Linked DNA regions of Homo sapiens. The protein of the gene in region 1 interacts with the protein of each later gene in a biochemical or structural test. Each region holds a gene or a part of one and is shown in the gene's direction. Other genes may lie near its edges.

Region 1 (7,930 bases):
TCTGCCTATCAACAGAGTGAGGAGTGGGAGTGCCTTGCAGGAGGACAGGGTATTCATGGGTGCACACCCAGTTAGCTCCAGGAGTGAGAGGGCTTTGCTCGGCTGACAGGTTTCCTCATTGAAAATGGCTTTAGATCGCCTTCTGGAGCCTGGATTTGGAGACTTCTAAGAGGAAAGGAAGGAGGTGGGGAGCCCTTCTGCTGTGTCCTTAGCTTACCTCTGTCCAGCCTGAATCCTGCAGATTGGAGGGCTGTTGGGGGAGAGGGGGATTGCAGTGGCCCCTCGGAAGGGGGAATCGTGGGAGAGGGAGGCAGGTGAATTGCGAGTGTTGCTTGCCACTTCATCTATTCTCTGGCCAGCTCGCCCGGGGCTTTCTTGCTCTTATGATGAGTTTGTGCATTATGCTCTCTGCAGACTGTTTTTGTTCTCTTTGACCCGAGGTAACAAACACATTATACAGCCCTACTCTGGAAGGGAAAACTCCCCACCTCACAATCTGTCATCGAGCTGGGTCATCCAGGACTGAGCTTTCTCTGTCCTGGATGGAGCGGAGGGCGGTGGCGGGGTGGGTGGGAGGGTTGGAGATGAGAGGGGATGGACAGAGACCTGGGGAGGGAGGTAGTGAATAAAAGAATTCAGGCCAGTGTAAAGAGAAAGACACGTGGAATGTCAGAGTCACGATACCAGGGCAGAACATTCTACTTTTTAATCTAAATATTTCTGCCATTAAAAAAAAATGTTTCAGCATATCCTGAGAGTGAAAAAAAAAGTGTGTAGGTACTTAAATAAAGTCTAATATATGTACAGGCAAGTACATATATTCAGATGCATAGATTTTTACAAAATGAACACACCCACGTATCCAGCACCCAGGTCCCGATCAGTGCCCTGGAAGTCCCCCTCCCCATACCGCCTCCTAGTTGCTCCCCCAACAAGGGTACCGCTCACCTGACTTCTAAGGTTCATTTTGCCTCTTTTAAACATGTAAATGGAGTCACACAGTACGTTCTTTTGCCACTGGCTTCTTTTGCTCACATCTGTGTATGTGACTCTACTACAATCTATCCATTCTACTGTTGATGGGCATTTGTGTCATTTCTGTTTGTGCCACTGGGAACATTCTTGTGTCTTCTATTATTTTTTTCCCACAGTTCTCTTAGATAGGAGTGGAATCGCCCCTGCTACTTTTTGATGCATGTGTTGTGGGATGTGTATTTGGAAATGGTGTTGACTAAGGGTTGCAGGTCGATATGGAAAGCAGGTTCCTCCCTGTCTTGTTTAAGAGAAGTGAGTGAATGATCCATGAACTTGTCGGTATGCTCACAGGGCCTAAGAGTGCTACTTCCAAATGTAAATTCTGGCATGGTACACTGGTGAAGGATGCAGTCTTGCTTTCTCCACACTCGGGGCAATTTGTCACTATGATTTCTTCCTCTTTCATCCCTCAGTGGGTCAAACTTGAAGCCATCAATGACAATTAAGAATCCTCATTTATTTCATTTTTTCCCCTCTTCCTAAGTGAGGAAACCCAAATGGAAGTCTTTGATGTTCAAATTTACATTGCCGTGTTTTTCTCATGCCAGGCAGCAAGCCGTCTTGACCACACACCTTGGTTTCATGTTTTCATTGACTGGAATTGTGATTCAAATAGGGCCATGAGGGTCTCTGATGATTGCCGAAGAGCTCAGATCTGTCAGCTCAAAAAGGAGCATCTGTCAGCCTTCCTAGAGTTCCCTCCCCACTTAATGCCACTCACTCCTTCTACCAAGTGCCAAGGTGAATGTCATCTTTCCAGCCCTCCCTGTGCCACCAGGTCTCCCACTGAACATGATGTAGAAACTCAGGCCATCGGAGGAACACTGGAAGCAGGTCAGTGTATTATCACGCACAGTTGCCTGAATTACACGTAGAATTCCAGCTTTTCATCCGGTTTGCAGAAATCTTAACAAGACACCTAAAGTCACATTGACATCAGGTGACATCACTTTGACATCTGTGGACATTGGCTGATTGGCACTCCTCTCATTTTTTTTTTTTTTTTTTTTTTTAAGAAAAGCTCTCTAAAGAGAAACTTTCTGCATGAGAAGCGCTGGGAGACATGGGAGCAGGTTATCAGACTCTTGGCCTGTCCTGAGAGATAGAATGTTCTAGAAGGTACTGCCGTAGAGGGCAGGATGGTGTCACTTACGTGATCCTTGTACTAGACCGGCTTGGCTGGTATTTCCAGAGGAGCAAAATTCTGCGAAGTAAAATTTAGCACGGCTTTTCCAATGGGAGTATTTTCAAAAAGGGTGCAATTTCTTATCCACAATTCCCCAATCCAAAAAGCTCCAAAAACCAAAAGACGAGCTCATATAGAGGTAAAACCTAACCTGAACTGACTTCAGTTTGAAGTCTTAATTTACAGTTTTCATTCATTCTACTTGGTGTGCATTTGAGTATGTTTTGCAGCAGAAATGTTAGATGTGCTTGATGATGAGGTGCTGCTTCAGCTCCTGACTGTTAGGTCTGCATTGTAGTCCTGTCAAACTTTCAGGTGTATGGAAGTTGTCTTGTTAACAGGATGGTTCTGGTCCAGCAGGATTTGGGTGGGGTCTGGGATTCTGCTTTTCTAGCTAGCTTCTAGGGATTCCCCATGTGGTAAGTTCATGGGCTAGGGTTGGAGTATCCAGGTTAGATCATAGAGACATCTTGTTATCATTTTTCTTTTCCTTAAAAATCAGGTTTATAGGGGCCGGGTCTGGTGGTTCACGCCTATAATCCCAGCACTTTGGGAGGCTGAGGCCGGTGGATCATGAGGTCAGGAGTTCGAGACCAGCCTGGCCAACATGGTGAAACCCCGTCTCTACTAAAAATACAAAAATTAGCCAGGCGTGGTATTGTGCGTCTATAATCCCAGCTACTCGGGAGGCTGGCAGGAGAATCATTTGAACCTGGGAGGCAGAGGTTGCAGTGAGCCGAGATTGCACCACTGTACTTTTTTTTGAGACTCTGTCTCAAAAAAAAAATAGATTTATTGATGTATAATTTATTTGTAGCAAAATTCACCCTTTTGACATACTGGTCTGCAAGCTTTGACAAATGGATGTAGTTGTGGCCACCACCCAAATCAAGATATGGGACAGTTTCATCAACCCTAAAATACCCCCACAGTGCCCCTCTTGAGTCAGCACCCCACTTCTCCAGCCCCTTCAACCACTGATCTGTTCTCCATCCCTACAGCTTTGCCTTTTGCCGAAGGTCATATAAATGTAATTTCACAGTATATAGCCTTTTGAATGTGGATTCTTTTACTCAGACTTTGAGATTCATTCATGCTGTTGCCTGTGACAGTAGCGCCTTCCTTTTTGGTGTTGAGCAGGATTCCATGATATGGATGGACCAGAGTTTGCTTCCCAGCCGAAGGACATTGGGATGCTTCCAGTTTCAATGATTATGAATAGAGCTGCTATAAACATTGGCTTATGGGTTTTAGTGGGAACATTTCATTTCATACATTTCATTTCTCTTGGGTAAATTAACCCAGGAGTGAGATTGCTGAGTTGTGTGGTAGGTGTATGTTTAATTTTATAAGAGGCTCTCAAACTGTTTTCCTAAGTGGTTGTACCATTTTACATTCCCATCTTTGCAATGCGTCTAAAAGCCCTGAGTTCTGAATTCCAAAGCACGTCTGGCCTCGATGGCTTAGGATTAAGGATGTGGATCTATGGAAAGGAGTGGAAGTAATAGTGTTAAATCCCGGTCAGAGAAATAAGAAAGATTAAGGATGTCATTCAAAGCTATGTGCCTGCACTAGAGAGAGAGAAAGAAGGGGTTCTCTTGGGTGGGGTTCCACCCCTCCCTGGTAGTTCTACCATTCCCCAGGAAAAAGTCAAGCTCTGAGGCTGTGAGACCCATGATCTTTACCCTGTTCTTCACCACTGCAACCCCAGTGTGTGGGACAAAGCAGGCGTCCTATAAACGTTTGCTGAGCAAATGAGAAAAGGTACCTGTCTTCACCCATTAACTAAATTGTATAACATCTATCTGATCTACCCTTGTGCCAACGTTTTAGGATTTTGATGGGTTTTAGTTGCAGGGGGTTGAGAGACTGTCCATGAGATTATCAGACCAATGAAAGTTTCTGAAATGTTAGTGCTTGAGTAGATTGGATGCAGCGGCCCCTTGAGAATGAAGTCTTTCTTCAGGGACTTGGAGTGGGAGGCATCTGTTGGGTGCGTAGGGCTTATGCTTCCCCCTCCCTGTTTCCCCCCCAGTAGCAAGCACACATATACACTTTCTCAGCAATAAAAAGCACCGCCGGGAAGGTGGACTCCATCCAGAAATGATCAGAGCCTAAGAGCCGTGCAGTAACGCATTTCCGAGAATGCCAGCTCAGCTCCTGAGAAAAGGGCCGGATGGGATGGTGCCTGCTCTGAAAGAGGGCAGAGAGGAGAGGGAAAACACTCCGGACTCTGGGTCAGACTGGCCCAGGTTCACATTATTCACCAGCCATGTTATCTTGGGCACCAGAGCCTATTTCTTGACATGCATGATGAGGATATTCCTTCTAGTAGCATCTCCCTTGGAGGGCTCTCAGGAGATTAAATGGGGTCGTGCGTGAAAAATGGCCAGCACAGTCTCCAGCACAGAGAAAAACCCCAAAACGCCAGAGCCGTAATACTATGGAGTCATTTAGGTTCCAGTGTTCTTTTTTTGGAAACCGGCCAGAAAAGAGGCTTTCTGGGTGGGAATGGGAGCGAAGTGCCCCCCCCCACCACCCCCTGCGACTGGTCAGTGTGGATTGATTAACCTGATCGTGGCGCTCTTTAAAGCCACCTTTGGACATTTTGCATTCTCCGTTCTCTCTGGAAGCTTTCAGGGGAAAAAAAATTCGTGGCCACTTGACCCATTTTTCTATTCCCTTGAGTCTAAGGTAAAAATTAATTCTCTTTCCTCCTTTGGTCCCTCCCTCTCTCTGTGGGTGACAAGGTGAGGGAGTTTTAAAGTATATAATTAGCTTCCCTCTTCCCCTTTTGCACTCCCTGTCTCTTCCTTTGGGGCCGGTCGAGAGTGCAGCCCAGGATGGCCACCCCAGGTGTCCACTGCAAACTCCACAGAAAAACTTTGCTCAACTTTTGGTTTAGAATTTAGGTACCCCCCTCCCCTTCCAAACTTTGGTCTTCTTTCTCCTCACTCCCTAAAAAAATAGGAAAAACAAGGAACATTCCTGGCGAGGGAACCATGAGTGGGCACAGCAACTTAGGTTTCAAAAACCACTGGGCCTCAGTTCTTATCTGAGTAGGGTGACCCTTCAGCCAGGGTTGCCTGGGACTATCCTGGGTTTAGCATCTCTGGAAACTCACAGTCCTGGGCAAACTGGGACGCTGGTCACCCTAATGGTGAGTTCTTAACACCTGAGAGAGAAGAATGGTGCAAGAGATGGTGCCGTTGACCAAGAAAGGGGGAGAGTCAGTTACTTATTCCCTCTGAAAAGCCAAGACTTTTTATTGGAATGAATGCAGCTTTTAGAAGCCGTCTTTAAGGCAGCTAATACAAGAGAGATTCCAGCTATGAAGGGAAATGCCTGAGTTAAGTCCGGATCAAGTTTTGACATCTCGCTTCGGTCAGACACGGCTTTATCTGCCGTTCAGACTGGGAGCAGCCGTGAGTCTTCCTTAAAGGTGCCTGTTGCTCAGGCGGCACCTGCAGTTAGAAATTAGCAGCCTCCCACCCCCAGCCCCCAAATAACAGGATTCAAGAGTCCCCTCTCTGAAGCCATGAGGGAAACCCAACTTAGTCACCCACTTGCCAGTAAATAATATTCATGCTGTTAAGTTCTGTTCTCATTTTAGGCCTATGTGTAAAAAATATATGTAATTTTAAACTGATTTTTAAAGTATTTTCATACGAACAGCATTTGCAGGAGGGCGAAGTCTGGATGTTACCTTTTTGTAAAAGTGGATGGATTTGTCTTCAATGAGACTCTGGGGCAGACTTAAAACTTGGCCCGCAGTGGTGTTACATGGATTCTGATCTTCCAGAGTCTGTCACGTTCTTTTATCTCCATGATCTTTATTATCTTCTTTATTGAGAATGATGGGCATGGTGTGTGTGGGTGGGAGGGCTATGCTGACCATCACTGCAGTGAAATGTGTTCGTGGCATGTTGTGGCGTCTGCATAGGAATGTGTCTGTTTGATTAACAGCACAAGCAGTGGAGGCTGTAAGGAGGAAAAGAGGAGGGAAGGTGATATTGGATGGAGGGGAGACATATAGAGCTTGGGAACAGTCCACCCTGGCTGCAAATCTCAGCTCCAGCTCACAGTTGTGGAGCCTCAGTCTTCTCCTCTGTAAAACGGGGACAGTAGTCCTATGTCCGAGGAATTGTAAGAAGGTTAAAAGATACTGTACCCAGAAAGCACATGGCATATATAATCATCCTGTGAAGTAGCCAACTCAATGAATTTTATTTTATTTATTTTGAGTCAGAGTCTCACTCTGTCACCCAGGCTGGAGTGCAGTGGCATGATCATGGCTCACTATAGCCTCGACCTCCTAGGCTCAAGCGATCCTCCTGCCTTAGCCTCCCGAGAAGCTGGGACTATAGGCATGCACCACCGTACCCAGCTTTAACAACATAAATTTATATATATATATATATATATATATATATATATATATATATATATATATATATATATATTTTTTTTTTTTTTTTTTTTTTTTTTTTTTTTTTGAGATGGAGTTTCATTCTTGTTGCCCAGGCTGGAGTGCAATGGCGCGATCTCGGCTCACTGCAACCTCCGCCTCCCGGGTTCAAGCAGGACGATGGGCATTTGGGATGTTTCTAGTTTGGGGTGGGGGATTGTTTGTTTGTTTGCTGTTATGAACAATGCTGCTGTAAGGAATCAATAATTTTGAATGAATGAATTCGAGGTGTTAATTTTAGTCTGTGTACTTGGAAATCTAGCTTCACCTAGAATCAGCTGAGATTCATCAGCATTTATGGCAGGAGCTAAGACATTTCACAGCTTACTCATCATTTTCTCTAAGAGGCTGGGTCAACCGGTTAGCTCTTGGTCCTGCTTGTATTCTGAGAGTCAGAACCTGTGGTTTAGACACTGGCAATTGATATGGTTGTAGAGAAGCAGCATGGTTGAGTTGAGAGCATGGATTCTGGAGCTAGGTGGCTGGGGTTCAAATCCCAGCTCTACTAGTCACTGGCTGCGTGATCTTGGGCAAGTCACTTAAGTGTTCTGTGCTTCAGTTTCCCAGTCTGTCCCAGTGGTGATTCTAATAGCTCCATGGGGATCCTAATAGCTCCTATCTGGGAGGATTAAATGAGTTAATACATCTGATGTTTAGAGTGGTGCCTGACACTTAGGAAGCACTATATGTGTTTATACATGGAAGAGTGGATAGATGGATGGACTTATGTGGGTGGCCATATTTGGGCTTCTCTGATCCACTGCTGAGAATAGTGTGTGGCACACAGTAGGTGCTGCATAAGTGTTAATATTCTGCTCTTTCTTGCCAAGTCTCTCAACTCCCTTGATCTCTGTTATTTTTGGCGTCTGTGTTGTTAACCCATTCTTCTGAATGATCAGCTGAATCACTGTTGCTCCAATATATAAGCCAAGGAGAACACAATCACAAGGTCTCATTGATTGTCCATACTAGAATTCCATGATTCCTAGGCCCAAGTAGGATTTTCCCCACGTCTCAGCAATCCTTCTTCCATGTTTCTAATCTTTTTCTCTCATTTGTTATGCCCCATTGCCAGACTCTCCAATCTCCCCACAGCTTCCCCTTCCTCTAACTATACTGTCTCTAGTCTTACCTTCTCCCTAAGGGCACCGTCTTTGAAGACATCAAATACTTCAGAGCACCAAATATAGGTTAGCTTCTCTGAGGGCCTTACAAGGACATGGAGTGTTTGGGTCTTACAC
Region 2 (7,930 bases), on another chromosome or scaffold:
AATAGTCTAATGTCACAATTTCATACAATCTTTGTTTTTTCTCCCTTTGACAGGATATTTTAGTAAATCTCATTAATGTTTCAGAGTAAATATGATAATTATGCCTCGAGGTATTTTTGTCAGAATTGAAGACTGCTAATATATAGGGAAAATCCTAAAATACTAATTTCACAAAAATACCACATGATTGAGAGTTGTTGCTGAGTAGTTTTGAACTTCATTTCATAATGGAGAATATTAGTTATTTCATCTGGTCAAATTATCAGATAGTTCTAATCAACAAATATGAAAATGAATAACATTGTATTTATACGATTTGCATATTAGACTGAAATTGAAACTAAAAAATAGTATTAATTATATGCTTGTATTAATTATATGCAAGATGAGCTGGAAGATTAATAAAATAAAATGTAGAATATGTTAGAAATCTGAAAGTTAATTTGAACTTCCTGTTAGCCTAATAACACCATTAACATAATATCAGTTCATCACTTTTGATGTCAGTATATTAAGTTGATTTTGAGAAAATTCCCAAAACAGTTAGAGCCATCTAATCTTAAAGAACACACACTTAATGCAGACAATTATACGAGCCTGAAATATAGTTCTTATGATTTCCAGTTTGTGCAACAACCAAGAAGAGCTATCACTAATTCCAAATTGAAACATAATATTTATTTTCCTAATGGTAATAATTAAGTAATTTGGGGGGAACAAGAAATAAAAACAGTTTGATTATATAATGGAACAAATCTTTGTCTAATATTACCAAAAACCCATACCAAAGTTAGACTTTCTGCCATTGTGTAATGTAGGTATGCGTCTTGCATGCATTCTGCAGAAAATATAATATTTTTAAAAAGTAAATATCTGATGTAGTTGTGATATTTTAAAATTCTTAAATAATTTATTTATCATAAATATATCTGTACCAAAAGTTCAATACATGACGTGGCTGATTTTAGCTGAAATTTTTTCACTGAAATTGACCAAAGCCATTTAAAAAGAGACAAAGTATATGGCAATATACATAATAATTTCAGCTAGAATTTAAGGATATGTGTGTGTATATACATATGCATATATTTGTGTGTATATATATTCCGAAATTATCTAAATTTTTCAAAAAGGTTTAGAAACTCATGGACAGTAGACTATAATTTGCTGAAACTAGGGGCTATTCATGTACAAAGTACCATTTAAAGAAAGATGACGGTGTCTTAGGAATGCTTTTAAGGGTTCTTTGGTTGAAAGTCTGGGAATACTCAGAGATAATATTAATGAGAGCCTAGAGTTTTTTTCTTTTAAAATGGGGTTCCATGGCTTTGGGCAGAAATGATTTTTATATGTATCATGATTGAAAAAACTCTCAGTACAAGATGATGCACTTCTTTATACAGGTAACAAATAAGTTGAAATCATATTTTTACATGATTTAGATATGATGGCTGATAAAACTTCTGTCTTTCTAAGGCTTTTGGCAGATGTTTCTTTCAATATTTGCATTAAGGTAAACATTCTTAATTTTTTATGTAATTGAATGGCATGATTATCATTGCATTGGGTGGGAGAATGTGGGTTGATATGTTTTCATTAAATTCCTCAAGAAATGATCAACATTTTTTCAGTCTTTTTGCAAACTTGACTTAAACTTCTCCACTAAGTGTTTCCATTTCCTTAAGGAGAAATTTAACATTTCCAAAAAAAAAGATAACCAGCATTTTTCTTTCAGCTGGTCATTTTAAGAGTGTTCTTGAGGAGCTAGTTTTATATGGACTGTAAGATAAACTGTGGTAGCCGGGTATGTGAACATCACTCCATTCATATGTACTAGCAATACAAAATAAACTTATTTAAAATTATAGTGCAAATGTATGCTACCTATTAGAAGAGAGCATGCCATCATTTACTGTCTACATCAATAAAATTAACTTTTGTTTTATTAAAAAAGGAAAACTTTTCTTTAAAGTGGACAATAAATATATTGCTATGTTGTAGAAATGGTAAACACTAGAGATGCTATTTCTGCAATTTAAAATATAATATTAGAGATTCTATTGCAAAGAATCCTAGTTTTAAAATGGCATCTACATTACATTATTTTAAAAAAGCAATATTTAAGAGAGTTTCAAAAGAAATTAAAACCTACATTAAAGTAAAATAACACCTTTATGGTAGTGTTAGAAATGAATTTTCTAGCATGTCTTTGACACATGCAAAACAAATATTTTAAAGAATTATTTCTGTAATTGCTCTAATTTTTATATTTATTTAAGCCTTAAGTTCTGATTGCTGATTTCCATACTTTACTAATAATGCAAATGAGAGGTCAAAGTTTATCTTTTTTGGTTACTGCTATTGCGGAAATACAAAGAAAGCATACTGGTCACTCCTATAAATGTCTCACACATAGTATGTTTTATGTTTAACATTATTACTTATGCACATAAAAAGGCATTTTGTTAAAGAGGAGCTCTAGAAAATCATAAAGCAGATGAAGATATAAAACACGCCTTCTATTTCTAGCTGTTTGTACAAAATGAGAGCTGGGGAATTTCCATGTAGAACGGGAATGGCCTATAAACTAGTGTAAGAATTCGGTGAAACTACTTGGTTAAGATATAATTTAAGATATTATTTCCAAGAGTTCATACAGCCCTGTTGGACAACATTTCATCACAGATACTAGCTTGCAACCATGCTACGGCAATCATAAATACTGTTAAAAAGACATTTAGCTAAGTGCCTCAGTTAGAAATTAATTTCTGATTGAAATATCCACTTAATTAAATTCAGGTATGGTACTGAAACTTGGTCATATCTTACCTCAAAGAACCTATTTCTGTACTTGTGAAATATAGCTTTATTAATAATTTTAAAGTGCTTAGAGTTCCGATATTTTTTTATCAAAGGGTATTATATAAGTAAAAGTAATTGTGTCTTATTTCCTGTGATAGATAAATGTTTTCTTTCTCTTTTGAAATCAAAGATAAAATGCACATATGCACTCAAATGCAAACATATTTGAAGAGTTTGAAATGTAAACATTCTTATTTTGCAATTGCTTACATGAGAAGTATATAGTCTCCTGTCCTCTTCCATCATGCTCCCTGACAGCAGCCATCATTTCAGTCCCTTGAGAATAGAAAGGAAAGCAGACAAACCACCTGAAAACTCTGGTGAAAGTTCTCATGATGTGGCCTCCAGGGAACAGCCTCTTGTTTTACTTGAGGCTCATTTCCGCTGGGCCATCCTCCTTGCATGTCACTCCATGCCTACTGTGGGTAGGAAACAGGTACTTGGATTGACTGATTGCTGCTTTGAGATTCCTTGACATATTTTTTCATCAACATGAAGGCAAAAGGACATGAATACTCAGTCAAAACATGCAGAGCTGTACTTACGTGAACACTTTTAAAATGCGATACTGAATCTTATATAATTTTAGGATAATTTATGAAAAAGCTTTTCTTTCTTGGAATTTCTTTTGTTTACTCACAAGTGATCCAAGCAAAAGATGAAGCTGTTAAACCATGAGTCAGTATAGTATTTTTTTAACTTAACACCTGAGAATAAAGCTGAAAGGATTGTTTAAAAAGTGTTTCAAATCATACTTTCAAAATCCATCTGTGTCTGGAGACCCTTAAATAAGCACATGCTTCATGGTCATTATCCCAGATAACTGACAATTTGTTTTTCTACAAAATCTCTGGATATTATGAAACATCACACACGAGCTTGCTTTTAGGATAGATTATTAATAATGTATTTTTCAGACACAATTGTATGTGAGAGTTTCTGCAAGTATAAACAATAAGATAACATTACAGCAGCAGGCAACACTCACTAAAATATCAATTTTGAATTGTCTGCTCTCTCTTTGAGAAGGAGAAAGAGCTAACTGAGTATCTTTTTCCCTCATGATGTACTTACTGGTCTCCAATATCCTATGCCATACAAACAGTGGACATGGTCCTTGCTTAGCTCCTATGAAATACGGAAACTGCCTACCTGCTTATTTTTGAGGGAAAAAAAACTTTTCTAGAAAGATTTTTAGACAAATGATTTATTGGCCTTTGAAGCAAGGACAAGTGCTATAACAACTCATTAAGGGACAGTTGAGCTCTAGCAATCAGGTTTTGAGTTATCAAGATTATTAGGAAGAAAAGTTGACACAGTTTCTCAGGAAAAAGACAAGGAAGCAAAGCATTGAAATCTGTTTCTGACTTGGAGTGTCTGCCAGATCCTAGTTTACAAGGCTGGCTTTCTGCCTAATCCCTAGCATTTTCATCAGATTTGAAGACTGAATAAAGTGAACTATTGGGCATTAGAGCATATTTCTAGAGCACCGAGACCTCTTCTATAAATAGCATAACATCACTCTTCTATTTTAACCAATGTTCAGAATCCGAGGCCACAAGTTTTTATATTTAAATATGTATAAACCAGATCATTCTATGCCTGAAAGTACTAGGGTTTTATCTGTCTGTGTACAGGAAATTCTTCTGTTAAAAGCTTAGTTAACAATATGACATTACAAATAATGTACCTATTTTTAGTGGTTTTATTAAATTATAATGTTAAATTTAAAAAGCCAAGCATTCACCTTGAGCTACATCTGAGCCTGATAATTCAAAAAGTGACATTTCAGTACAAAGCCAACATACCCTTAAATTGACAAAACTGCCCTGCTTTTAAATTGTTTTGTAAAAAAGTACTTGATATGCAAGTTTCCAACGACTTGTTTTTTTTCTGGAGAATCTTAGATACTTTCTGAACCACTCTTAGACAACACAGAATGAATATTAATGACAGGAGAGAGCTGACTCCTTCAGGCAAAAGTGGATGAGACAAGTTCTTTTATGCCTTTGAGAATCTGTTTCATCATTTATATATTGAACACATAGCAACAGTTTTATTTCTCTTGATTTCTGGACTTTTAGACCTGTATGCATCGAAGCATATTACACCTCACAGCCTGAATAGGAAAGATTTGTTCAGTTCTCTGGTTATAAGAATGATATAGGAATTCCTTTGTGTTCTCTTCCTTTCTGTACATTTTATTCCTTTCTCATGTCTTCTCTTCCTACTCTGCCCTTCTTCCTTCTTTTCTTCATTCTTTTGTCTTTCCTTTCTTTTTTTGTATCTTAATTAAATATTTTCCTATAGAATCACTAAATGAAGGTTTAGTACTTTTGACCCATAGTAATCTTCACCAGCTGAATTAATTTGTGTCAACAACTAAGAAATGTAATTCTTAGTTTGTATACATTTTAGGTTAGCTTCACAAAATATATGTATAGATAAATAAAGGAGCAGCCTTTTAATTTGTTTATGTAATTGGCACACTTAAATGGAATGTGTCATCATATGAATGTTTTTAAAATTTTGCATGTAAAGGGCTTGCGGATAATTTTTAAACCGTAACTTTTTGCAGAGAGACAGAATAATGTTTTAGAGTCCAAAAAACTGGCATGTACTATTTGGCATGTTTTTCTTTATTTTCTATTTTGCCATTGCAATGGTAACAAGTTACTGTGTTCATGACAGGCGTGCAGCACTGTATTTTTATTTGTTTATTTATTTTATTGCCTTGTTTGATGTTGATAATGAAGAGGTTCTCTCTCTTAAAGATGCAATGAAGGAGACTCAAGTGTTGTTACTTGCCTGCAATTACACATTTAGAAAGCCTCTTATATTTTTTGTCTGTTGGAACTTACTGCCTCAGCACTTAATAAAGCAGGAAAAAGCATGTTTTGTAATTCTCTTACTATGTAAGAACTAGTTTGCTTTTGCTTATCTAACATCATTATTGAGTATAAGATACATAGTCTTTATTTATCCCACTGAAAAAATAAGAAAGATTTGATATACCATTATTTCTTCTGTGACTCTAATTGCAAAATAAATTGAGTTTGTGTTTTAAAATTATTCAAGGGACATTTTTGTAATCTACAAGAAAAGTCACTAAGCTTGAGTCACTAGGCTAAGTTGGCCTTTAGTCATTGCTATATCACTGTGATGTTAGATAAGTCACCTTATTTGTTTTCTTATTTGTAAACTCCATAGTTCCAAGCCACCAAGTAGGGTGCAATGAGAAGTGATTGTAATCATAAGTGTTGTAGCTTTATCACTAACTCTCCAAACTTATCTCTTATTATTCTCCTCATTGATATTCATACACACCTTCTTGCTGTTCCTTCACATAACATTAGTGGAAGTTGTTGAATCTATTGATACTTTTTATCTTCTATTCCAAGGTAGAATGGTTAAACATTCTGCTCTAAGTGAACATATCCAAACCACAATTATTATTCAATTCAAATATGAAGTCTATCAGTTGGCAATTCTTTGTGTTAAGAAACACATTTGCGAGCAATAGCTAATAGCCATACCATTGCAATGTGGAATAATATAAGTGTGTTTGTAGCTAATCTGATTTAAGAAAACAGGAATTTTAGTTGGGAAGGGCCTATAGAAAGAATACAAAATTATATGAAACATAGGATAGGTATTAAGGGAGATATTTGAATGAATACAGGTATTCATATTGTTTCTTACAATATGTCAGGCACTTTTCTATGTACTTTCCATGCTTCATCCCATTTAATATTCTCAATAACTCCTTGGGATTTGTGCTAATTTGTTTATAATTTTTAAGTGAGAAAGTAGTGGAAAAAGAATAACTGAGCAACTTCCCAGGGTCACATTATGTAGTAAGATGTAGAATTAAACCCAAGCTACCTATTTACAGAGCCAATACTCAATCATAGGTAGTCACACAATCAATAAACTCATAAATGTCAGAAGAAGAGAATAGATGGTGGCAAAGAGGTAGAGGTACCCAAAAGAGATTAAATAGTGATAGGCAAATTGATCCACTTTATAGGTTAGGTCAATATGAGCATGATGGCAATAGGATAAAAGTATGAAACTTAGAGAGCTGGATTCAGATAGCCAACTCTGGAATGGTGAACTTCAATAAGATAGTTCCCCAGGAATGAAAATGCAATAATGTTTGCAAATTGTCTGGTGCCCTGTTACTATATGGTAGATTTGACCACCTTTGCTCCTCTTTCTCTTTTTTTATTTTCAGAAATTCTTTCACTTGTAAAAATGCCACCTGACTCAAAATGCTTAAGCAAGAAAAGGGATTTTGGTGCTCATGTGACCATAAAGTTCATGAATATTCTGGCTTCAGTCATAGGTGGAAATGGGAGCTCACACCATGTGGTCAGAACCAAGCCTATTCTCCTTCCTACCACTGTACCACTAGTACTCAATAATTTAACGACTGGTATGATTATACCAGTGTGAAAAGTCTACCTATAAGAGGATATTGGCTGAGTTGATTGTTATTTAATTCTAGTTATGTCCTTGCCTTACTCTGTTTGGCTTCCTCACTTTTTAATGCAGAAGGGTAGATAGTCTTTATTCATCTCATTGCAAAGATAAGAAGAAAGTCCTTTACAAGACTTGAAGAAATTAAGCTTAGTAGAACCAAGAACAGCAAATTGCAGAGCCACTTGCGTGTAAATGAGAATTTCAAACTTTTATTAGTTTTGTAAGGAAGGAGGGGTTATTTCAAGGAGTTTATAAAGTTTTAACCTACATATGCTACAGATTAAACGTTATCAATTTGTACAAATATATTATACATTTTTATCTTTGTTGTACTCTGAATTGAAGAGGAAATATTTGGGAATAATATATTTCTTCGGTAAGTATGATGATGTTCCTATTATATGCCAGGCACCATTTGGATGCTGGGGATACAGAAATAAAAATAGTAGACAGGTTTCCTGCATGTAGGAGCTTACATTCTAAGGAAGAAGAGAGACCATTAAAAACAACAACAAAACATTGCTATGGTACTTATATAATAAATACTATAAAATTGTAAAATAGGCTAATAAATAAAACAGAG

Evidence for each region. Proteins that work in one complex are often made in the same cells at the same time.
Region 2: the proteins of CACNA1A (region 1) and SYT1 form a complex in vitro, tested with the Homo sapiens proteins (one study listed by BioGRID).

Annotation. Positions count from the first base shown.
Region 1 is NC_000019.10:13,496,276-13,504,205, reverse strand, and holds part of CACNA1A (voltage-dependent P/Q-type calcium channel subunit alpha-1A), read left to right. Parts: intron 1-7,930.
Region 2 is NC_000012.12:78,867,509-78,875,438, forward strand, and holds part of SYT1 (synaptotagmin-1), read left to right. Parts: intron 1-7,930. UniProt on the Homo sapiens protein: Calcium sensor that participates in triggering neurotransmitter release at the synapse. May have a regulatory role in the membrane interactions during trafficking of synaptic vesicles at the active zone of the synapse.